Homo sapiens: one gene and its partners. The protein of the gene in region 5 interacts with the protein of the main gene of each other region in a biochemical or structural test. Each region holds a gene or a part of one and is shown on either strand. Other genes may lie near its edges.

Region 1 (4,074 bases), about 41 Mb from region 5:
TCCTGGTCTCCTGCCAGTGTTGCCAGATGTCTGTGGGTCAGCTAGCCAGCACGTCTGAGTGGGCACTACGTAGAGGAAACTAATCTGATTCCCCTTACCTTAATCTTCCTCATCTGTCTGGCAATGACATTTTCCTGTCAAACAGGTAGGAGATGCTTTCGCATGGGAGCAGGGGATGCTTTTCACTGGGGGAAGGGTCCTGGTCGCCAGTCAGCCTTTCAGAGGCCAAAGGGGAGATGCATTCTCTGGGTATTACGTCCCCACGTGTCAGTTTCACAGCCATGTTCCCAAAATTTCGCTTAAGATGGCCACAGGTCAGGTGATTCCTGCTTGTCTCTTTCCCACCAGCTTAATGCAAACTCTTCCAAAAAGACAAGATCAATCACCCGGTGAGGGTGAGCTCCCAAATCTAGCCACCCCAACTTTGCCCTTCTTAAGATCACTGCAGGAAAGGGTATTTTCAGGAAGGGGAGGGATACATCCCCTGGTGAGAGCTAGGGTGTTGAATTTTTAAAAACTTATCAGAGTCTCCCACCGTCATGTTTTATTTATTTTTAAACCTCTGCACTTTCTTTTCTCTGTGAAACTTTTCATTTTAGCCTTCTTTTTCAGTTATTCGTCATTGCAGATATTTTGCAAACTCAAGCCTCCCTACTAAGAACTCAGGAAGCAACCAATGCTTCCATTTCGTGATGCCAATCTGCCCCCTCCCCTCCCGCATTCTACATTCTATAAGTGTGCGGTCCACAGCAGAAGGGTTCCTGAGCCGTGTCCTTATGGTCTGCTAGGCAGCAGGATGGACCGGTATTGTTCGTGTGTTGTGTTATTCGTTTGTGTGTGTGTGTGTGTGTGTGTGAATGCGCGCGCGTGTGTATGTCTTCCTGCAGGGGAAGCTAAATTGAGGTGTGTGTGTGCATTATCCTGGTTTTCAGTTTTGTGGAACGAAGTTTAGGGTAAAGGAAGAGTAGGGAGAGTGCAGAGAAAGCAGGAAAGACAGGCATACTCCCGCTTAAGAGCAGACGGGGTTTCAGGGTCCAAGGTAAACACGAAAACCTTTTTCCTCCCTACTCCCCTTGGGCGAGTGCCAGAAGATTCTCCACTCATCTTTTCCCGGCTAAGTGTAACGATTTAGAAGGCGTCGCGGTAGACTGGTAGAGATGAAGGTTCCCCTTCACACGTTCTGCAATCCCAACTCCTATTTTCGTGTCTCTAAACCAGGACTCCTGTACCATTCCAATTGGCCCTGGTGCGGGATGCCAGTTGCCCCGTTTGTGACGCTGCGCAACATTGTATCACTGCGTTTGCACCTACCTGCTGGGAAATCCTGCAGACAGATGGAATGGTGGCTTCGACACACGCATGCTCTCCCCCTCCTCCCGGAGAACCCTGCCCTTCCCCTGCAGTGCGCGTGGGCGCCGCCCATCCCCTCGTCCTCACCAGGAGTACCAGCTCGAAGCAGCCGGCAGAGGCGCCGGGCACCTCCCTGGAGGGCCGCCAGTTGCGCCCAGCTGAGGCGCCCCCTCCCCAGTGGCAGGGAGGGGGCCAAGCAGGCGAAGGCTCCGCAGCTTGGGCCTCTGCGGCAGTGACCGCGGCTAAGAGGTGTGTCCCACCGCCCCCACTCAATCCGTCCGCTATGTATTCGGGGCCAGCCCCAAACACTTCTCCAGGTCTCTTGCGCTCCCCGAGGGTATCTTCCTCCTCTCTTTCAAGATATTGGCGCTCACCGCACTGTCGCTTCTCTTCAAGGGGAAAACTGCTCCGATTCCCACCCCCTGCTGTCACCCCCGTTTCTAGCCCCAAACAGCCCATTCTCGATTCCCACATGTTGCTTCCCGCCTCCCAACCCCTTCCCATTCCCCCGGGTTCCCCATCCCTGCATCTTTCTCAGCATCTTGGCCAGCCAGTGCCAGACAAGCGGGATGCAAGGGGTACCCGGAGTCCCGCGGGCTCCATAGCCATCTGACTTCGCCTTGCTTCTTTTCCCCGCTTCAGGGGGTCTTTTGCTTACCTTTATTCTGGACCACGACATTGGCGTTCTGGGCGATGGCGATGGCGATGGCGATGGCGAGGTCTTTAGACCTCTCTCTCGAGTGTCCACCGGACATTGCAATAGACATGGTGCTGGACTTGGACGGAACTCTGGAGCCGCCTCAGGGCAGAACTCTGGGGCCAGCTCTGTCACAGGTTCTGGGGTCGGCTCTGGGGCCAGCTCTGGGGCAACTTCTGGAGTCAGCTCTGGGGCCGGCTCTGGGACCGACTCTAGGGCAGGTTCTGGAGTCGGCTCTGGGGCAGACTCTGTGGCAGGTTCTGGGGCCGGTTCTGGGGCCGGCTCTGTGGCAGGTTCTGGGGCCGGCTCTGTGGCAGGTTCTGGGGCCGGTTCTGAGGCCGGCTCTGTGGCTGGTTCTGGGGTCGGTTCTGTGTACAGTTCTGTGGCTGATTCTGAGGTCGCCTCTGGACAGGGACCTGGAGCAAGCTCTGGACAGGGCTCTGGTATGGGTTCTGGCGAAGCCTCGGAGAGCAGCGGCGGAGCCGGCGGCGGAGCCGGTGGTGGTGGCGGCGGCGGCCAAGGCGGCGGAGGCTCTGGAGACTCAGCGGGCTGCTCTCCATCCTGAGGCGGGGCAGTGCCCTGGGCTGCGGCAGCTCCGCGGTCCATGGCCGCACACCGCTTCAGGTCTGGGCAGCCTGAGTCCCTAAGCCTGGAAGGCTAAAGTACCCTCGGGCGCCCCGCCCACTCCAGTCCGGCAGCCCCTCGCAGGGTGCCAAACTTTCCCCCATCCCACTCCATGGCTGGCTTGGCTCTGAGGTCTAACCCGTGGGCGCTCAGCGTCTCCCTATGCTGGAACACGCCCCTCAGTGTGCGCACACCTCTTCGTAAGCAGCCACGGGTCCGATGGGCGGGAAGCAGAGGGGCTTGCGAACGCGGACTGGGCAGAGCGCTTGATGACCTCCTAGCGACGCGCGGGAGGGGAGGGGAGAGACAAAAAGGGGAGGGGGAGTGGAGCGGCGTGGAGGTTGGGGGGCGGGCTGGAGCCTTGCCGTGTTTAACCCTTTAGTGACACGAATGAAAAAAAAAAGCCAGAGGCGAAGTTGAGGGTCTTTGCAATCCCCCAACCACTTAGCTGCTGGTCAGAATAGCTTCCATCCTGTGTCTGCTCTCTCACCTCAGCAGCAGGTGAGCTTAGCCTCGGACCAACCTCTTGCCCCCCATCTCCAAGCCTCGATGGGCAAGTAATGCTTTTTATCTAAGCCGGGAAAAGAAATTAAGCGGCATGGTGTGTGTGTGGTGGGGGGGGGGGGTGCGGGGGGGGCGGGTGTTCAGCCTCCTTTGGATTGAAGTACAATTTGACCCTCTTCGGTTTTTTGCATTTCTGAGCTTTGCCGTTGGGTACAGAGTTTGAGGTGATTCGGGAAAGGAGTGTGATGAGGGAGGCTGGCGCCCCGGCTTTCCGCAGCCTGCAGCCTCCCCGAGAGCAAGTCGAGAGTGCCCCGGCAGCAGCTGGGCTTCGCGCTCGGGAGCTGAGGCTATCTGGGCGTCTGTCTGGCTCGCCTATGCTATAGGAGCCTGCCTTGTGCTTTTAGCTGGATTTCCCAGCCATCAGCAGGAGTTTGTTTTTCCGCCCCCCCCAAACTTGTTAACGCGCGCGCGCGCGCGCGTGTGTGTGTGTGTCTGTGTGTGTGTGTGTGTGTGTCTTGGGCTGGGGAAATTCACTGCAACACCCACACCCTTTTCACCTCCTGAAGCAGTCTGACATTAGAGATGGGAGATTCTCTTGGGAAGAGAACGACTGATGCCTAGCGCAGCACCTTTCCCACCACATCGGAAGACTTTAGAAGCTCTTTCTGTTATAGTCACGTACACATACACACAAACCATCATCTTAGTCAGACCTAGACTTTAGACGCCAATATATTACCAATTGTAATTAAAATTTGAGAAGACTACCTGTTAAGCCACAGCTGGGTGGGGGGAGCGGACGGGGGAGAAATACCTGTAAACCTGATTTGAAATATGACAAGTGAATTTATCTCCCATACACATAATGCTGCAGTTGTGGGTAGCAGCCTTCTTTCTGC
Region 2 (3,500 bases), on a different chromosome or scaffold from region 5:
ATCTCAAGTGCACATGGAACAGTCTCAGGACAGATCATATGTTAGGCAATAAAAGATGCCTCAATAAACTTTAAAAGACTAAAATCATACAAAGTATGTTCTCTGATCACAATGAAATGAAACTGAAAATCGATAACAGACAAAATGTTGAAAACTTCAAAAATATGTAGATAATTAAGCAACACACTTGACAAACACTCAACAAAGTACTCAACAAACTGGGAACATAAGGAACATCCTTAAACTGATACAGTGTATCAATGAAAAACCCACAGTTGCCAGGCATGGTGGCTCATGCCTATAATCCCAGCATTTTGAGAGGCTGAAGCAGAAGCTTGAGCCCAGGAGCTCCAGACCAGCCTGGGCAACATAGGGAGACCCTGTCTCTACAAAGCATACAAAAATTAGCCAGGCATAGTGGCTCATGCCTGTAGACCCAGCTACTCAGGAGGCTGAAGTGGGAGTATCACGTGAGCCTGGGAGGTCAAGGCTGCAGTGAGCCATGATTGTACCACTGCACTCCAGCCTGGGTGACAGAATGAGACCGTGTCTCAAAAAAAATAAGAAAAGAAAGAAAAACCCACAGTTAACATTATACTAAATGGTAAAAGACTGGAAGCTTTCCTCCTAAGATAAGGAACAAGACAGGGAAGTCTGTTATTGCCACTTTCATTTAGCATTGTATGGGAAGTTCTAGCCTGGGCAATTAGGAATGAAAAATAAATAAATAAAAGATACCCATATAGGAAAAGAAGAGGTAAAACTATCTCTGTTTACAGACAGCATGATCTTATATACAAAACTCAAAAGAATACACTAGAAAACTATGGGAACTAATAAGGAGTTCAGCAAAGTCACACGATATAAGGTGACAGAAAATAAGTTGTATATCTAAACACTAGGCAATTGTGAAAAACAATTGTGAAAAACAAATTGAAAAACAAATTTAAAAAACAATTTCATTTGCAACAGCACCTAAAAAAAAAATAGAAATAAATTTAACCAGGGAAGTGAAAGACTTGACACTGATAACTACAAATATTGTGCAAGAAATTAAAGACAAACTAAATAAGTGAAAAGACATCCTATTGTTAATGGATTGGAGGACTTAATATTTTTAAAACAGAAATACTACCCAAAATGTTTTACAAATTCAATGCAATCTCTATTAAAATTCCAATGGCCTTTTTTACAGAAATGGATCCTCAGTTTCATATGGAATTGCAAGGGACCCTGAAGAGCCAACAAATACTGGAAACAGCAAAGTCGAAGAATTCACACATCTCAATTTCAAAATGTACTACAAAGCCACAGTAATCAAAACAGCACATGGTACCTGGCATAAGGATAGCTATATCAACCATGAGAATCAAACAAAGAGTCCAGGGGAAAAAACCCAGACATTTGTGGTCAACTGATTTTTCAACAAGGATATCAGGACCACTCAATCAGGAAATAATGGTCTCTTCAACACATGAGGATGGGACAACTAGAGTACCACATGCAAAAAAGTGGACCCCCTCTGGCAGGGCGCAGTGGCTCACGCCTGTAATCCCAGCACTTTGGGAGGCCAAGGTGGGTGGATCACTTGAGGCCAGGAGTTTGAGGCCAGCCTGGCCAATGTGGTGAAACCCCATCTCTAGTAAAAATACAAAAATTGGCCGGGCGTGGTAGCGCTCGCCTGTAATCCCAGCTACTCGGGAGGCCAAAGCATGAGAATTGCTTGAACCTGGGAGGCAGAGATTGCAGTAACCTGAGATTGTGCCACTGCATTCCAGCCTGAGCGACAGAGTGAGACTCTGTCTCAAAAACAAAACAAAACAAAAAAACGTGGACCCCTATCTCACACCATATAAAAATGTGGACCAACAACTGAATATAAGAACTAAAACCACAGAACTCTTAGAAGAAAGTATGGAATAAATCTTCATTCCTTGGATTTGGCAATGTAGACATGACACCAAAAGCCTGTGTAACAAACAAACAAAAAAAAACAGATAAATTATACTGTAAAATTTAAACTTTTAATGCATCAAAAGTATATTATCAAGAAAGTGAAAAGACAACCCAGAAAACAGAAGTATTTGTAAATCATATATCTGATAAACATTTAGTAACCAAACATACAAAGAACTCTTTCAATAACCAACAATACAATTCAAAAATGGACAAAGGATTTCAGTAGATATTTCCACAAAGAGAATATACAAATGGCCAATGAGCACATGAAAAGATGTTCAACATCTTAGCCACCAGGGAAATGAAAATCTAACCCTCAACATGATACCACTTCACCCCAAGATAGCTAAAATTTAAAAAAGCAAATGGCAAGTATTGGCAAAGATGTAGAGAAATTGGAGAATTGGATTATAAAATGGTGCAGTCGCTTTGGGAAACAATTTGGCAGTTCCTCAAACTGTTCAACAAGAGTTACCACATGAGCTGTTTTCTAACAACACTTCTGACACCACATGTGGAAGTGTTTTTCCATACCAATACAGTTCTCCAACTTTCCAGACACCAACTGAGTGCCCTATAATTCAATTCTGACACTAACTGCCCAGAGTTTATGTCAGACTCCACAGGCTTAGTTCCACAAGACTACCCTCACTTCAGTTACCAGCCACAAGCTGCACATTGCCACCTGTACTTCTGACCAAATAGCTATAAATAGGGGTTCCCACAACCCCCTCCTCATGTTCAATAATTTGCAAGAATGGCTCACCGAAACTCAGGGAAACACTTTACTTATGCCTATCAGTTTATTATAAAGGATATAAATAAACCACCAAATCAAAAGGCACAAGGGTGAGGCCGAGATGGGTTCCAAGTATAGGAGTTTCTGTCCCATGAAGTTGAAGCAACACCTTCCCAGCATAAGGATGCATTCACCAACCCAGAATCTCTCTGAAAACCACTGTTTAGAAGATTTTATGGAGGTCCCATTTCACAGGCATGATTGATTACATCACTGGCCACTGATAACTGATCTCAATACCCAGTCCTCACCACCACCCCCTCACCCATCCAGGGGTGGGGCTGCAAGTTCCAACTCTCTAATCAACACAGTTGGTTCTTCTGGCAACCAGCTTCCATCCTGAAGTTGTCTAGGGGCCTACCAAGAATCACTTTATTAGCATAAATTCAGATGTGACTGAGAGACTTATTATGAATTCCAAAATATGCTCTATTACCTCTATTACTCAGGGAGTTCCAAGGATCTTTGAAGTTCTAGGCTAGGAACCAGACCAAGACCAAATATATATTTCTTATTGTATAACATCACACCCAGCAATTCTACTCCTAGGTATATACACAAGAAATGAAAACGTATGCCCGCACAAAAACTTGTACATGAATATTCACACCAGCATTATTCAGAATAGTCAAGAAGGAGAAACGACTTAGATGTTCAACTGATAAATGGATAAATGAAATGTGGTATATCCAGATAAGAGAGTACTGTTTTGCAATAAAAAATATGAAGTGCTAATATATCC
Region 3 (3,500 bases), on a different chromosome or scaffold from region 5:
CAATCACAGCCCTCCCAGCACTTTCCCTATTCCTTTTTGGCTTCCTGACATTCCTAATAGACTAGTATAGGAAGGGAGGTAGGGCTCAGGAAGCCTGGCCAGTGGCTGTTTGCCCTGCTGTATTACATTCCTTGTCAGAATGGTATTTGTGGACCACCTTTGGAAACTGATCAGGAAATGGAGTGTATTAAATCACTAATATAGATTTGAAAATAAACTTAAAAGCCCAGGGTGAAAACGTGTCATTGCTCTCCGCAGGCCAAAACCCAGAACAAAGAAGAATCCTATGACTTCTCCAAATCCTATGAATATAAGTCAAACCCCTCTGCCGTTGCTGGTAATGAAACTCCTGGGGCATCTACCAAAGGTTATCCTCCTCCTGTTGCAGCAAAACCTACCTTTGGGCGGTCTATACTGAAGCCCTCCACTCCCATCCCTCCTCAAGAGGGTGAGGAGGTGGGAGAGAGCAGTGAGGAGCAAGATAATGCTCCCAAATCAGTCCTGGGCAAAGTCAAAATATTTGAGAAGATGGATCACAAGGCCAGGTTACAGAGAATGCAGGAGCTCCAGGAAGCACAGAATGCAAGGGTAATTGTTTTTAAACTACACATCATCAATAAGAGTTTTAAATAAGTTTGATTTCAACATAACAGCGAACAGCCCCTTTGCTGCTGCTGCAGATGTGGCAGGGATGCACTGCACCAAAGGCAGGTGCTGTGTATGTCACTTCAGATTGCCAGCTCCCAGCACGTCCCTTGTTCTTCCAAAGAAGAAAACTTGACAATATAGGGGAAGAAGATTCTGCTCTTTATACACAGAACTTTGTATAGAGTTCTGGAATGAGGAAGTGTGAGGAGGGAATCAGTGCCTCTCGGAAGTCGTTTTAATTAGAATGTGATTTTTTTTTCTTAAACGTGTCTTCATTGGCTCCCAGATTTGCCGTAGAAACCAAGCAAACTGGGTGCTAAAACAGAAAGGCCCATAGATTGTACTTTTTGAGCTGTTTGAATTTGTATACCATATGCACATAGAACTTTTCAAACAAAGAAGAATTTAACTAAAGGTCTGTGGAGTATATTTGCCCAGTAGATGTGGGAGTTTTCTTTCAGGTCTAGCACAACAGCAGCAGTACATCTGAGCATTTTTCTTTTCTTGTCGTAAAATATACATAACATAAAATTTACCATTTCAACCACTTTTTTCTTTTATTTATTTTGTTTTGTTTTGTTTTGTTTTGAGACAGGGTCTCCCTCTGTCACCCCGGCTGGAGTGTAGCAGTGTGATCACAGCTCGCAGCAGCCTCCACCTCTCAGGCTCAGGAGATACTCCCACCTCAGCCTCCTGAATAGCTGTAACCACAGGCACATGCCACTGCACCCAGCTAATTTTTCGTATTTTTTGAAGAGACAAGGTTTTGTCATGTTGCTAGGCTGGTCTCGAACTCCTGGGCTCAAGCAATGCACCCTCCTCAGCCTCCCAAAGTGCTAGGATTACAATCATGAGTCACTGCACCCAGCCTCAACCATTTTAAAACGTTCGGTTCAGCGGCATTAAGTACCTTCACATTGCTGTTCAGCCATCACCACCATCCATCCCCAAAACTTTTTTATCCTTCCCACGTGAAACTCCGTACCCATAAAATACTAACTCACCACTCTCCTCTCCCCGCAGTCCCTGGCACCCACTCCTTTACTTTCTGTTTTTTGTGAATTGGACAGTGTAGGAACCTCCTATAAGTAGAATCATACACTATTTGTCTTTTTGTGATTGGCTTATTTCCCTTAGCATGATGTCCTCAAGGTTCATCCAGGTTGTAGCATGTGTCAGAGTTTCATTCCTTTTAAATAGTTTTCCTGTCTGACGTGTACCGCACATAACCATGGAAATGAGGAGGCCGCTTCTGTGTTTCCTCTTCTTGAAATGGGATGGGAAAATAAGTAGGATATGGGGAAAGGGTGGGACCAGCAGGAAACCAGCAAGCAGAGTGCCCAGTGGTTCATTCTTTCACTCTTATTCTTTTCTTTTTTAATTACCACAGATCGAAATTGCCCAGAAGCATCCTGATATCTATGCAGTTCCAATCAAAACGCACAAGCCAGACCCTGGCACGCCCCAGCACACGAGGTAAGGGCTGCCTAGTGGGTACAGGTCTAAGGCGGGGACTTCTCAAGGACTGGGACTTGAAGAAAGAATTTCCTTTACCCAAATTTCAGAGTAACAGGAGGATTTTTTCCCCACAGATTGACTGTTTGCCTTACTCATTCCATCAAATTTAATTGTAAAGATTACAGAGTCAAAACTTAAGCATAGTTTGCTTGTGTGCTAAAACTCTGACAAAGTGTAATCATTGATGTTTCCAGCCAGTACATTTGACACATTGGAGCCTGGTTATGTTACATTGCACATGGTTAGCACATGAGCAGAATTCCTACGGCTTAGACCTGTTTTGTCTTGTTTGCTGACTCTCAGCCAAACTTCTTAATTCCTTTGCATCATCCAGCAAAGTCAGACCGCTTGTGCTGCCCTGGGGTCTAAAGGGACCGTGACAAGCAAATGAGCAGTCTTGGTAAATGCCACACAAACAGTAGGAATGTTCACAGTGTCTTCCTGTTGAAGTTTTATACTGGATTGCTTCCTGCTTCCGAGAATAGAAAAAAAAAAGTCACATTTTCTTGTGGCCATTCTTTTGTTTTTTTTGGAGACAGAGTGACTGTCGCCCAGGCTGAAGTGCACTGGTGCAATCTCAGCTCACTGCAACCTCCGTCTCTCAGGTTCAAGCGATTCTCGTGCCTCAGCCTCCCGGGTAGCTGGGATTACAGGTGTGTGCCACCATATCCAGCTAGTTTTTGTATTTTTAATAGAGACAGGGTTTCACCATGTTGGCCAGGCTGGTCTCAAACTCCTGACCTCCGCCCGCCTCGGCCTCCCAAAGTGCTAGGATTACAGGTGTGAACCACTGTACCCAGCCTCTTGTGGCCATTCTGACTGGAAGCTGAAGTCTAGTTTTCCAGTGATAGAAAACTGGAAACAAATTTCTTCTTTACCAGCTGAGTGGTAACACAGTCAACCAGGTTGCCTCTGGCAACAAAGAGTTCTTGGTTATGATGGACTGAAACTGGCAGAGACCTCGCTGCTGGGTGAGACTAGCCAGGGAGCTTAGGGGTAAGGAGGGCACCCCCTGTCCAACAGGGAGATTCTTAGGTCAGGGAGCACCTGGCTGGCTTCCTCACTCACCGCCGAAGTGGGCATTGGATTTGACCTATTACGAACCTGGAGCAGGACCAGGGATGCCCTGGTTGCTCTGCAGAATGTGGCTCAGAGGTAAGTGATCTGCTCGGGATACCCAGTCACTGTGCTCAGAGCCATGCCTCCCCGGGCAGCCGGAGGACATGGATGTGCTCTGGAATGTCTTTAACACCCTTTTTTTGTTAGTTCCAGACCCCCTGAGCCACAGAAAGCTCCTTCCAGACCTTATCAGGATACCAGAGGAAGTTATGGCA
Region 4 (3,500 bases), 2.8 Mb from region 5:
TAGCAAAAACCCAAATTAAATATGTGGGATTCTTGGAAGAAAGCATCCAGTAACCAAATACTATGAGCAAAAAATTAATTTATTACAGATATATTCTCTAGTAATTCATAATAGCTTCTTGAATTTTAAATGTCTTTTTGCTATTTCCAATGCTTAAAAATCATAATTTTAAAACATAAGTACTGTTTTATATACATTGTGATTTCTTTTCTTTTCTCTCTCTTTTTTGTTTTGTGTTTTACTTCTAAATATGAATGATATGGTTTCCAAGTAGCTACTTGGAAAGAAAGGGGATAGGATTCATTGTTTTGCTCTAACATGGTAGAATTTAAAATTTCACATCATATACCTGGAGTTTTAACTATATGAAAAATAGCCAAATGTCATCACTTTCTTGGATATTTCTTTTACGTGTATATATATGTATAATATAAACAGAATACATCTGATTAGTACATTTCAACATTTCATCAATGTGACTTTTATCTCCTATTTTATATAAAATAACAAAATATACAGAGAGAAGAAAGGAGACATCTGTTCATCATACACACAAAGTAAATAAAAGTTCATGTATGGCTTTGCAAAGGTAGATTATGACGTGACTTCCATATTTATTTGTTTAAAAGCCTCTTGAGAGAACGTGTCAGTGTGCTTACGAGAGCGGCCATGGTGGTTGAGTGTCGCGCCGAGAGTCCAACATTAGGGTCCCCAGGGTTCTTTCCAGTGGCTGCTTCGGCAGCTTTCAGTAGACAAATGTAATTTATGACCACTTCATCGATCTTCCCTACAATTTCCTGCCGCTGTGTTTCTGAGTTCACGACTTTAACTAATCGCATGCAAGCTTCTGTTAGGCAACAGAGCACTTGAAAGCTGGAAGTCATAGCTAGGAGCATCTCCTCCGGGCTTTTCTCAGCCATCGCCATTTTCCTACAGGCACTTCCCAACTGTCTGGACTCAATGGATAACAGTTGCTTGTACTGAGAAAGTGTAAGGTCGTACGCTTCAGGGCGTGACTCCTCCCTCTTCTCCTTGGTTGCCCTGACGAGACAGAGCAGCTCATTGGCATCATTTTGGGCTGCAAGGAACCCATCAGGCATTGCATATGTGCTCTCCTTTAGGGCATTTATTCTTGCAATCCGGGCATCAAAAGCCAGGTTGCTGAAGTCCAAGTCATCTGGGTCTCGCAGGTCTTCTGCCCAGACCTTCAGCACTGACCCTCTGGATAGCTCCCCTCGTTGCTTCTGAATCGCCACAGCCAGGCATGGGCTGCTTGGTTCTGGCATGGCTTGAGTCATCTGTGGTCTATAGAGGCAAGAGACCTGGACGGTGGCCTCTCCCCTCTCCTCTTCTTCCTCACCATCTTCATCCTGCCCTCGGTTCAGGAAGCAATAGCTGAAGGGTCCCCGGCATCTCCAATTGCTGCCCTCCAGCTTCCGCAAGGGTAATGTCCTATACAGCTTTGAGTCTTTATGAGCCACTGGGGACCTTTTGTGAAACCTCCCCTCAGAGCTCAAGTGCATTGAGCTTTGGGAAAAACTTTTGGTGAGCTTCCTCCCCAGGGGGAGTTCTGCTCGCCTTTCAGAACTGGCCTCCTGTGCTTCTGTGATGCCTGGACACTTTAAGCTGACTGCACCCTTGGTTCTCTCTCGGAAGGTCTCCAAATCGACAGATCCGGAGAGGATACTGCTGCTATGTCTCAGAGCCTTCTGGCTGGGAGGTGTCCTGAGGCTCCCCCCTCTCAGATCCGGTGGCCGCCAGCTCACAGCCTCTCCGTATGCCTGATTTGCTTGGGAGAAATCATTAGGGTCTTGATTTGGAATTGGCACCTTTGATTCCGAGTGAATGTTTGATGGTAGCAGGATGGGATCAGCTTCAGGATGTTGAGACCAAGCTGAAGGCATGCCTCCTCGTCTCTCCTTCCCAGGCTCTGTCAAAGCTACACTAGGGGTAGTAGAAAAACAGAGAGAATCATTAAGCATCTCCTGGGAGGTCATTTTTACTACATCTCTACATGATGTCTGTCATTTCTCAAGGTTGTAGTCTGGAAGGGCTGCCGATGCTAAGGTCACCCTGCTTTCCAAAGACTGCCTCTTGATATCTCATAACAAATTTCCATTTTAATGAATATCAAGAAAATACTGGAATCTGTTATTTCTGGAACTGCTGATTCATTTGGAATTGTCTAGAAATCCCAAACATTTTCAGGGATTTCATGAATTGCCTTACTCCCAATATCTACCCATCAAAGCTTAGACACAGAAAACAACTGTGTATAGATTATTCAAATATATTGGAGATATTAAGTTTCATTTCAAGGGAATTAGGTTAAATCTGGCATTGTTACTTTTCTTTTCTTTTCTTTCTTTCTTCCTCCTTTCTTTCTTTCTCTTTCTTTCTTTCTTTCTTTCTTTCTTTCTTTCCTTTCCTTTCCTTTCCTTTCCTTTCCTTTCCTTTCCTTTCCTTTCCTTTCCTTTCTTTCCTTTCTTTCTTTTAAAGAAGTGGCCTAATTTAATTAGTGCAAATTAAATAAGTGAATCTTTTTAAGAAGTCAGCATGAGGTTTGCCTGGTAAAAGTCTGAAGTTGAAACACTGGGCCAGTTGTTCAACATTTTTTTTTTTCTTTAAGAAAAGCTGTCATGTGAAGCAAATAATCCCCATCTCACAGAATTTTTGTGAGAAGCAAGAGGTAACTCAGGTGAAAGTTCTTTATAAATCATGAAGGATTAAACAGTGTGACTTAGTTTAGAGGTAAAGATGCAGTTGGGTGATGAGTTAGGTGATATTCACAGACAGCTTTTCCAAAGGAGGTAAAGCCAGTGGTGGGTTTTGAGAAAGTAGAAAATCTTAAAAGAACAGGAATAGAAAATGACCAATATAAGATGTCACTAACTTCCATTGACCTGTATGGAAAAGACACTATTGATGACATAATTTGAAACATAAAAGTATGAAAGAGTATCTGCTTTTGCCATGTGATGGCCAGCCAAGTGGATCGGTGAGGGGAATGCCTGCCATTGAGTGGTGGAGTGGTGAAGGTGGGATACAGAAGGTGGATGTGTTCTTTTTTCTACGTGTGTTTACACTTTATTATTTTGGGGAAAATAAAGCAGCTCATCAGGAATAGCCTCAAAATCTTCCTGACACTGGGGTATGCAAGACACTTCAGAACATCCATATAGAGCAGTCTTACAGAGTAGGGAGGAATCAGTAAGATTGCCGAAAGGCAAATGATCTCTCCAAACCCCTCCAATCTCCCTGATACCCTGCTCTCTTATCCTTCCTTGTCCCTCAATAATGAAATGGCAGAATTAGAACTCAGATGTCTTGGGAAGAAAATCAAACTGTTATGTGACTCTAAGCAATACTATCATATAACTAAAAGTCACACTGGGCATTGCTAAACATCTGCATTTAGAATTTAGGAAAAACATATTGCCCCATCCAATTCTGAAAGCAAGCACAGAGTAAGATTATAAAGAGCAAATGCCATTTTCACC
Region 5 (3,258 bases):
AAGCAGAGAGTCCTGATCCAGCAGCACGAGGACGCCAAGGAGCTCAAGGAGAACCTGGACCGCCGCGAGCGCATCGTCTTTGACATTTTGGCCAACTATCTGAGCGAGGAGAGCCTCGCGGACTATGAGCACTTCGTGAAGATGAAGTCGGCCCTCATCATCGAGCAGCGGGAGCTGGAAGATAAAATCCACCTTGGTGAAGAGCAGCTGAAGTGCTTATTGGACAGCCTTCAGCCCGAAAGGGGCAAATAAGAGACCAGTCCCCGGTGGAGGAGGGGCACGGGGCCTCCGAGCTCCAGCTCCGTTCCCAAGGATACTCGTGAAGACCCCATCTGTGTTCATGGCCTGGAAAGAGACTTCTCCCATAGCAAAGAGGCTGTTATAAAAGCAATAACTTTTGTGTTTGTGTGGGATGATTTATTTAATTTTTTAGTTTCCCCTTTGATTGCTGAGAGCCATTTTCCTTTACACATAACTACACCTGACACCAGGCTCTGCTGGATGTGAGTTTCCACTGCATGGGCTGTGGGCTGGGCCTGTGGTGCCTGCCGAGTGGTCACTGTCAGTGGGAAACCCGTTGTTCCTCCCGTCTTCAGATGCTGAGCCAACTGCTTGGACAGCAGCCAGCGCGTCATGACGTGCATGAGAGGGGGACCCTGGTGCTCATCTTCTCTTGTCATTCATCCAGGCATGGGCTGCCAGGTTTTGTCCCTGCTCGTTCAACAGTGTGAGCATTTGTCTCTGTTATCTAATGATGTTCTCTGACCCAGCAGAAATCATCATCATGATGATGATAATTTATTAACTTTTTGGAAGGGTGAATAGTTTCCTAATGGTTAAAAACCAACTGTGAAAGGAACCACCTGTGTGGTTGGGTTCACTCATTCTCAGATTAAATTGCCACTTAAAGAAATAACGTGCATGCTTTAAAAAACACAGTCACGCACCAAGCAGGCAAATAGCTTTAGTCCTTCTCACCTCACATCACAGTTGTTCTGCAAAGTAAAATTTTTTGGTTAAGAGCGTGTCCAGTAGTAATGTGCTTGTTAGCTGTTTCTCAAGACCAACAGAAGATTTTTTCAGTTACTTTCCCCCCATGTATTTTGTATGCATATGATTGTCCGTGATAATTGGCTACTTTTCCATTGTTTCCTCCTTAAATCGTTTAGCATGGCATGAGGGCCACATTCCATGGACGGGAAGACCCCTTCCTCTTCAGAGGTCCCGTGGACTACACAGCTCCTGAGCTTGATCTTTTTCTGCCATGAAGTTTAAAGATTCTATGCCCATTTCCTTGATTGAAATGGCAGGATTCTAAAGAGAGCCTGGTTTGTTAAAAGAAAACACTGTCATGCTGTCAGTTCCCAATTGACAAGTCACAGACTGGGAGAAAATATTTGCAAATCGTGTATCTGACAAAAGGTTTGTGTCCAGGATGTACAAAGAACTCTCAAACCGGATAGTAAGAAAACAAACAGCCCAAGTGAAAAGCAGGCAAAAGACTTGAATAGACACTTCACCAAAGAGCATACACGCGTGGCAAACAAGCACACGAAAAGACGTTCAGCCGCCGATGGCTTGGTTATAATTTATAACTTACTTATTTTTATCTAATAATTGTAGATTCAGTGTATTTCTTCAAAAAATGTTTAATTAAATGCATGTTAATGGTGAGTGAATCCCTTGGGTGACTTCGTGTTTAGGTCGTATTAGGGCATTTGTTGGATCAACGGATCATTTTAACCCTGACTTCCCCTTATTCCCATAAAAGAAGTTTTCCAGTGGAATGGAGATTTCATTTTGTCAGCAGCAGTGACCACAGCCTTACCAAAGCAGACGCGTGCGCGTGCACAGATGCACACACACAGATGTCTTAAAAGACTAGAATCCACACTTCCTGAGCCAGAGGGGCCGTGTTGACGGTAATGCATTCTCTATAGAGCCAAGTCCAAACTGGCAAGCTCAATGATGCAGGCAATAAACCGCCTTTTTGGCAGCCTACCAATGCCAAAAGGATAAATGTCTTTCCAAAAGTGTGTATTCCTGTTAAATTAAGCTCTTGCTAACTTGAAAAATCCCTGTTCTGCCAGCGAAGCTTCCTCCTCCTCTCCAGCTGGTAGTCACTTGCGTGAATGCTGGTCAGTCTGAAAAGGTGAAGCTGGCTGTGCACTTACCCCCATCTTTCTCCCTCGGGGAGACGACCCAAGGAATTTCAGAGTATTTTGTTTGGCAGAGCTTTTACCTGTTATTCTTTGCCCTCAAATACAGTATTGTGGTCATTTTGATGATATGTGTGTAAAATGTGAATAATCCAATTGGTGTCTGTACTCAGCCTTTTGATGTCTTTTTAGGACTTTCTCTTCTACACAGCAATACGTCGTGCTCGAGTATCCTTGTAGCAAAGCACATAGAGCCAGCTGTCCTGTCAGTTCCCCTGTTTGCCTCTGAAACGTCTGGTTAGTGGGGACCCAAAGATTCTAGTGAGTCAACATCCATAACTCTGTATCTAGTTGTATTATTCATAGAAAATCAATCTGGTGCTAATGGTTGGCCCTGGTGTTGTTGGGTGGCAGCTGCTCCTTCGCCCTCTTGTAGTGTGGCTGTGGAGGGCTCTGCCTATGGGGGGTGGCCTGTGGCTTGTATCCTTCAGTCCACCACAGCAAATGTGTGTAGATTTCATGCTCGACACTTACCACTCACCTATCAACAGATCATCCTGCTTGACTGTAACAAAATAAATAGTGTCTCTTCAAGTGAATGGAGATGTCTTTGATTTACCTACTTTACAGCTTTTGTAAAAAAAGAATGTCCTCACCATACGTCAGATTCTTAAGCCATCTGAGTAAACCGTGGGATTGATTATATGTGTGTAATTTATTTACACTAGTCGGTTTGTGGTGAGGAAACAGGGACCAGGTCGCATCACTTAGCTGGTGCCCCAGTAATGCTGTGTAACAAACTGTAAAATGTCAGCAATAATCTGTGCAACAAAGTATTGACTTAGCTCATGAATTTGTAGATGAGCTAATTCGGGCTGGGCTCTGTGCTGTGTGCCTCTCCTCTTCCTCATGGGACCAGCCGTGTGGCTGGATGTGTTCATGGCAGGGGCACAAGACAACACACCCTGTCACAAAGGGGCTTCTCCTGGCTTTGTCCTGTCATACCTGCTAACCTTCTTCTGGCAAAGCACATCTCCTGGCCAACCCCGGCACCAAAGGGTGTGGAACAGGCTCCACCTTTTAGTGGAGGAACCGTAAA
Region 6 (3,222 bases), on a different chromosome or scaffold from region 5:
AGGCGGAGCTTGCAGTGAGCCGAGATCGCGCCACTGCACTCCAGCCTGGGCGACAGAGCGAGACTCCGTCTCAAAAAAAAAAAAAAAAAAAAGAAGTTCTGTCCCAAAGCTAAGCCCACCCAGGACCCTGGGCTACCCTCAGATTTGGTTATTTCTGTCCAGTCCACGCTGGCCATAAGACCCAGTCAATTCAGGGAAGAGCAGGTGAGCAGCACCCAGCTGGGAACCGACCCTGGCCCCAGGCATGGCATGGCCTCATGGATCCACAGATAATCAGTCCAGCCTCTGGTGGTGGGAGAGAAGCACAGGGAATGACTGGCCCCCAGAGGGATAGTTCTGCTACCCTGCACCACTGGAGAGCTTCCTGACCTCAAGCACAGTGTGCCCCATGTCAGGGCCCCATTCCTATCTGTAAAAAGGGGTATGGATCCCTGCTGTGGATGCTTCAGGGATGATGGGGAGGGAGAGTGGATTTGAAACTACTTTGAGAAGTTGTAGTATACCACTTGGCTACTGCTACCATTTAAATATTGTTTGTCCCCAAAACTCATGTTGAGGCTTCATCCCCAACGTAACAGTGCTGAGAGATGGTAGGACCTTTAAGAGGCATTTGGGGCCGAGCGCCGTGGCTCACACCTGTAATCCCAGCACTTTGGGAGGCCGAGGCGGGTGGATCACCTGAGGTCAGGAGTTCGAGACCAGCCTGGCCAACAAGGCAAAACCCCATCTCTACTAAAAATACAAAAATGAGCTGGGCTTGGTGGCCAGTGCCTGTAATCCCAGCTACTCGGGAGGCTGAGGCAGGAGAATTGCTTGAATCTGGGAGGCAGAGGCTGCAGTGAGCTGAGATCATGCCATTGCACTCCAGCCTGGGCAACAAGAGCGAAACTCCATCTCAAAAAAAGTGGCATTTGGGCCATGAAGGATCTGCCCAGTGAAGGGATCCATGCTGTTTTTGGGGAGTGAGTTCTTGCTCTGGTAGGACTGGTTTAGTTACCTGGCGAGTGGGTTGCTATAAAGCAAGATCACCCATGTTTTGTCTCTTTTGCGTGTGCCTACTCACCACTCTTGCAGGCGTTCCTGCCATGAGATGCCATCCATCATGTCAGAACGCAGCATGAGGCCCTCACCTGATGCGGCCACCCAGTCTTGAACTTCCCAGCCTCCAGAACCATGAGCTAAATAAACCTCTTTTCTTTATAATTACCCAGTATCAGGTATTCTGTTATGGTAACAGAAAATGGACTAAGATAGCTAGCACGGGCTGCTGGTAAGTGGGAAGGAGGTAGGGGCTTAGGGGCAAAGATGGTGGAGGGGGGATTGATTCATACAGTTTCAGGCTGCCCTTCCTGGAACCTGGGGACTCTAGATCTGCTCAATCCAGGGATCTCCTGCTGAAGCATAATTTCCTTGTTAGAGGAAGTAACATATTGCTTTGGGAGGCAGAGGCAAGAGGAGGATCGCTTGAGCCCAGGAGTTCAAGGTTATAGTGAGTTATGATTACGCCACTGCACTCTAGCCTGGGTGACAGACTGAGGCCCTGTCTCTTAAAAAAAAAAAAAGTTTCTAATTTTTTAAAAGGGAGTAACATCGGTTCCTCAGCACTGGGCCCATTTTGGGGCAGGATTGGCCTGATCCCCAATATCAAACAGACTTAATGGAATGTTGCTTCTTCCCTGGCTCCTGCCCATGCTGACTGCCAGGGTTGCTGGGAGGAATCAGAGCAGCAGCAGCATCATCCACCATTAATTAGGCCCTGGCAGTGTGCCCAGGGAATCCCCTTGCCGCACTGTGATGTTTGGATGCATTATTACCCTCATTTTGTAGATGGGGCTGTGCAAGATCACACAGTACATGGCAAATTTGCCTAGATCCAAAGCCCAGATTCTATCCATTCTTCTTTCTGGCCTTCTCAAAGAAGGAAAAGGAAGAGGAATTGATTTCAGGAGAGATTGCTCACCCCCTTTGCTTGGGAGTAAGGTCATATCCCCTTCCCAGACCTGGGTGTCCTGGGCTCAGGCCCCACCTGGTGTGAGCCCAGCCAGCTGGGCAGGGCTAGACTCATGAACTCGGCAGACAAAGGTCACCATTTCCACACGCTGCTCCTCCCGGTGGTGAAGGCCATAAGTCTGTAATGGACAAGGGGACCCTCAGCCCAGGGTTGGGACAAGTCCGTTCATCCCTCAGGCTGGTCATCCAACCCCCCTGACCCCTGTGTGCAGCTTCTCCCACCTGGATCTCAAAGCCGAAGGTCTGGTTATCCTCCTTCTCCAACGTCAGCACTTTCCTGCAAGAGACACAGGGGTCAAGACAATTAGGATTAAAAGGTGTAGAAGTCCCATAGCTTGGGCCTCCCTGGATATTGGCAACTGGTCTAGAACATTCCAGCAGGACTCTGTCTCCAGTGACAGCTCAGTCTCATCACAGATTATTGGAATGTCTTTCCCATACCCAATTGAAATCAGCCTCATGGAGCCACAGAGAACCAATCCAGCCTCTAGTGGTGGGAGGGAAGCACAGAGAAGGGCCGGTCCCCTGAAGGATGAGCCGGCTGAGTTTTTTAGCCCCATCCCAGCTTTCCAGTGAGCCCTACAGTACCACTTACTGACTAGCTAAGGCCCGAAATTCAGCCACAGCCTGGAGCCTCCTCTGTTCCACAGCTTTGGAGAGAGGACTGGCCCCACCCCCAGAGGCCAGTCACGAGGCTCAGCAAGACCACAGCTGCTCCTCCCAGCTATGCTGGGGCCAGCCCACCAGATGTGGGGGCTGGGGGAGGGGAGCCTCGAGGCCGCCCCTTCCCGCACTGAAGGCCTGCCCGCTGGACACAATGGTCTGGAGCTGCTCCAGATCCTCGCCTGCTGGGGGAGCCCAGAGTTTCCTCTGCCCACTCCCACCCCCTTCCTTCCCGCCCAGCCAGAGGCACAGTTAAAGCAGCCTCCAAAGGCCCCTTCAAGTAGCTCAGCCTCGGAAAGGCCCTGGAGACCAGGCTTCTCCGCTTCCAGCCTGACCCAGAGATTCCCCCAAATGCTGAGCAGCACCTCCCCACTCCAGCTCGAGCCCCTCTCACTCTGAACAGCAGGCCTTTCCCCTCTCTGTACTATTGGGGCAGGGAGCAGGGTGGCTGGGAGTTCCGCGTCTACCCCAATGTTCTAGGGTTTTTTGGAAGGGTCAGCAAACTTTTTCTGCAAAGGGCCAAATGGTAAATACTTTAGGCTTTCTTTG
Region 7 (3,500 bases), on a different chromosome or scaffold from region 5:
TATGAAACTGCCGTCATATACGTGATCCATCATTGATCAAAATGTTGTTACGTGTTGCATGACTGTACTGTAAACACTAAACATTTAGTTTCCTTCTCTATGAGAAGTAAGAGATCTTATTATCTCTTCCTGCTCCTCTCGGGAATATTTACCCCTGGTTTTTTGTTTGCTTGTTTGTTTGTTTTTAATACTTTGCTGCAGCAAAACTCTGCATTTACCAGAACTTTTCCATGATCTTACTAACACATGATGTAAATGTATTAATGCTCCTTCCTTAATTTAAAATTTCTGTTTTACTTTCGGTGTGTCCTGCACATGTCTTGATTTATTTATCCCATAAAGATTTAAAGGAATCCCATTTTGCACTTCAGGAAAGTGCTCAGTGCTGGAACTGAGAGGTGGGAAAAGGCATCAGTTTATCTTTCCTGGACTTTAAACTCTGGAGCAGAAACAGCACATTATTTAGTACAAAGGGCAGTGCTAAATGTGCACTTTTCCCACAAACGCTGATTGGAGATGAAGATAATAATGGTGATAGGTAAAATACTGTGGAGAAGGGCTTCAAATATTGGTGGCACGGTAGCACAGCTCTTTGTGTAGTACCAATCACCAGCAGGAACCTTGGAGTATTTTCAGAAAGGTCCAAATGGGAATATGAGAGGAAGCCTGAATAGGCTTTGGGAATAAATGATTCACAGTTATAAAAAGGATTTGGCTTATAAACTTTCCTTTCCATAAGTACAAGGAGACAAGCAATGAGCAGAAAGAGTAAGTAGGCCTATTTCTTTCACTAAGAAAAAGCAGAACATACAAGCCCATTATTACTCTGCTAGTTAATTATTAATCCTATGCTTTTCTCCTGCTAGAACTTCTGGTACGGTATATAATTCATGAACACACTTTGCCAGCTCTCTGCCTGCTGGTTAATCTCTCTTTGGTGTCATTTTAGTCGTTTTTGAAAACCTCCAGTTCCCTTTTATAGGACTTAGCTTTTCAAGTCCTCGAATCTTCATTTTTAGGCATCTACTTGCATGTTCTGATCTTTTGAAACTTTAGTGATCATCAATTTGATTTTTTTTAGGCTCCGAGATATTTCTTTTAGCCCATTACAATGTAGATAATATCAATAAGTCTGTCACTATTGTAAAGTTCCCGTTTTTCTATGAAGACACAATAAAAAATATTCAGTGTGTACGTGAAAGCTGGTCTTCTTGCCAATGAGCGCTAAAAATGTGCCTCCAGGTAGTAGCTGGTTAGTGCTTGTAAAGATGCCACATCACAGCATATGAGGAATCTTCAAAATATAGGGCCATAACCACCTTCCTAAGGCACCTGGTACTGGGGACTTATTGCTGGAAATATTTTTTACTCTCGTTGTTCTTAAACAGTTAAAATGTGTGTATTGTGTTTGGTGAAAAGTTATTTTGAACATGTGGAGAAGAAGTACCACAGTCCCAGAAAATGGAACTTTATCCTGTTGCCATTTTTAGACCATTATATCTCCCTTAACCCTAAAAAAGCTTCAGCTTTGAAGCTCATGTTATCAGACTATATCATCTACTTCCCTTTCATGCTGTCATCTGCCAATCTATAGGACATTTTCCTCTTTTTCTCAGAGTTGTCAGTTCCTCTCTCATTGTCACACTCTCTGGTACTACTTCTGCCTTAATACTTGGCAATTTTACTATACATGTAGATCATCCTTCCCACCTTCCATCCTTTCAATCTTGGTTGTCCAGTTCCTTGACCTCCAATGTCTGATCTCCAATCTACCTCAGCTTCCACTCCACTCACACCCAAGGTCATGGCCTATGCCTTGTACCTCAGACCAGTGGTTGGCCAGCTATGGTCAGGTAATATTCAGTTTGCCACCTATTTTAATAAAGTTTTATTGGAACACAGCCACGCTCATTTATTATATGTTGTCTATGGCTGCATTCATACCACAATGACATAGTTGAGTAATTGTAACAGAGACTGGCCTGCAAAACCATGTGTTGGATCAATAACTGTACCCACTCCATAATCACAATTTTGTGCACCCTTCTCTGATTAGAGCCTTCTATCTTCCCAACTTACTCTCCACTACTCAACCACAGAGATGCTATAAGCTATAATGGCAGAAATTTTTGTCTTATTTTTTTTAACTGATGTGTCTAAAACTTCGAGAGCAGTATTAGGCACACTGTAGACACCCACACAGTATTTTTTGAATAAACAAACATAGGGTATGAGACAGCTGAGGTGTACGCTGCTACAATTAAAACATAATTTGAAAAGTTTCCTACTGCTTTTTTTTTTCTAGCTCATCTCCAATGTATAACATGTCTTAGTAGGGTAGGCTATGTCTACTGTCATTTATGGAGTGATTCACTGTGTTTCCTTGCTCAATGCCATCAATGTAGGACACTGTCAAAAGTTTGAATAATACATTTTTATTGTACCATATAGAAATAGCCGTAGACTTCATTCATTTGTTTCTTCAATCAAAATGTATTTATTGATCACCTATTTTGTATATGTACTTTTCGGAAAGGAGAAACATACCTTGATGTCAGGAATGTATATTCTTACAGTGAGAGGCAGGCAATACAAATATAAATAAAGTAATTTCAGATTCTGACAAGTGCTATTTAAAAAACCAGGGTAATTAAGTGGAAAGTGATGGAATGCTCAAGGAAGCCCCTCCAAAGAGAAGACCTTTGAGAAAGCTCAATAATGAGAAGCCAGTCATTTGAAAACAGAGGAAAGGGAATTCTGAATAAAGGATAAAGCAAGTACAAAGGACTTGGGGTAGACAGAAATCTAGCATCTTAGAAACACACACATTTCTGGGGATGTGGTCAAGGGGCAGATTGTAACCAAATGTAGGTGGAACAACACGTGGAGACCAAATCATGTGGAACATTATTCACCATTGTGAATAATTTATCTCTAAAACTCTACTGTGGAATTTCAATCAGGGGAATGATAGAACTTATGTTTTGAGAAGAACACCACAACTGTTTTGAAGAGAATGGACTCATGGGGCAGGAGAGGAAGCAGGGAGAAAAGTTCAGAGGCTCTGGTCGAATTGGGGCTGGAGATGATGGTGTTGTACACCAGGAGAACAAAGGGGATAGTGAGATGTGGCCAGATTTAAGTTATATTTCAGAGTAAAAATGAGGACTTGCTGTTGGATTGGAGGGGAGAGGTGAGAGGAAAGAGATGGATCTAGGATGAATCAAGTGAGAGACAGTTCTGCTTATGCTTCCAGGTCTCCCAGCTGTTCAGGTGGTTTATGGCAGAAAGAGCTGGGAACAGGACACCTGTGCTTCTGTTCTGAGTCTGACACTATTAATTCATGTGAAACATGATAATAATATTAGGTTGGTGAAAAAGTAATTGTGGTTTTTGCCATTACTTTTAGTAATGATAACAACACATTATAACTGCTAATTATTGAATGCTGTCTATATACGGGGCACTGCGGTTTTTGCTTTACATAAAATCTTCCACTT

What was found.
Region 1: the proteins of SHROOM2 (region 5) and DGKK interact in a test that uses a peptide from one of them, tested with the Homo sapiens proteins (one large-scale study listed by IntAct).
Region 2: the proteins of SHROOM2 (region 5) and RALBP1 interact in a test that uses a peptide from one of them, tested with the Homo sapiens proteins (one large-scale study listed by IntAct).
Region 3: the proteins of SHROOM2 (region 5) and TJP2 interact in a test that uses a peptide from one of them, tested with the Homo sapiens proteins (one large-scale study listed by IntAct).
Region 4: the proteins of SHROOM2 (region 5) and FRMPD4 interact in a test that uses a peptide from one of them, tested with the Homo sapiens proteins (one large-scale study listed by IntAct).
Region 6: the proteins of SHROOM2 (region 5) and TAMALIN interact in a test that uses a peptide from one of them, tested with the Homo sapiens proteins (one large-scale study listed by IntAct).
Region 7: the proteins of SHROOM2 (region 5) and SLC15A5 interact in a test that uses a peptide from one of them, tested with the Homo sapiens proteins (one large-scale study listed by IntAct).

What each region holds. Positions count from the first base shown.
Region 1 is NC_000023.11:50,468,026-50,472,099, forward strand, and holds the start of DGKK (diacylglycerol kinase kappa), read right to left. Parts: upstream 2,801-4,074; 5' UTR 2,654-2,800; coding exon 2,009-2,653; intron 1-2,008. UniProt on the Homo sapiens protein: Diacylglycerol kinase that converts diacylglycerol/DAG into phosphatidic acid/phosphatidate/PA and regulates the respective levels of these two bioactive lipids.
Region 2 is NC_000018.10:9,482,013-9,485,512, reverse strand, and holds part of RALBP1 (ralA-binding protein 1), read right to left. Parts: intron 1-3,500. UniProt on the Homo sapiens protein: Multifunctional protein that functions as a downstream effector of RALA and RALB. As a GTPase-activating protein/GAP can inactivate CDC42 and RAC1 by stimulating their GTPase activity.
Region 3 is NC_000009.12:69,250,777-69,254,276, forward strand, and holds part of TJP2 (tight junction protein 2), read left to right. Parts: intron 1-258; coding exon 259-588; intron 589-2,038; coding exon 2,039-2,124; intron 2,125-3,432; coding exon 3,433-3,500. UniProt on the Homo sapiens protein: Plays a role in tight junctions and adherens junctions. Acts as a positive regulator of RANKL-induced osteoclast differentiation, potentially via mediating downstream transcriptional activity.
Region 4 is NC_000023.11:12,718,973-12,722,472, reverse strand, and holds part of FRMPD4 (FERM and PDZ domain-containing protein 4), read right to left. Parts: intron 1,945-3,500; coding exon of another isoform or gene 1,940-1,944; coding exon 615-1,939; 3' UTR 1-614. UniProt on the Homo sapiens protein: Positive regulator of dendritic spine morphogenesis and density. Required for the maintenance of excitatory synaptic transmission. Binds phosphatidylinositol 4,5-bisphosphate.
Region 5 is NC_000023.11:9,946,686-9,949,943, forward strand, and holds the end of SHROOM2 (protein Shroom2), read left to right. Parts: coding exon 1-252; 3' UTR 253-2,758; downstream 2,759-3,258. UniProt on the Homo sapiens protein: May be involved in endothelial cell morphology changes during cell spreading. In the retinal pigment epithelium, may regulate the biogenesis of melanosomes and promote their association with the apical cell surface by inducing gamma-tubulin redistribution.
Region 6 is NC_000012.12:52,009,946-52,013,167, reverse strand, and holds part of TAMALIN (protein TAMALIN), read right to left. Parts: intron 2,677-3,222; exon of another isoform or gene 2,606-2,676; intron 2,288-2,605; coding exon 2,233-2,287; intron 2,130-2,232; coding exon 2,027-2,129; exon of another isoform or gene 1,986-2,026; coding exon of another isoform or gene 1,961-1,985; intron 1-1,960. UniProt on the Homo sapiens protein: Plays a role in intracellular trafficking and contributes to the macromolecular organization of group 1 metabotropic glutamate receptors (mGluRs) at synapses.
Region 7 is NC_000012.12:16,218,686-16,222,185, forward strand, and holds part of SLC15A5 (solute carrier family 15 member 5), read right to left. Parts: intron 1-3,500. UniProt on the Homo sapiens protein: Proton oligopeptide cotransporter.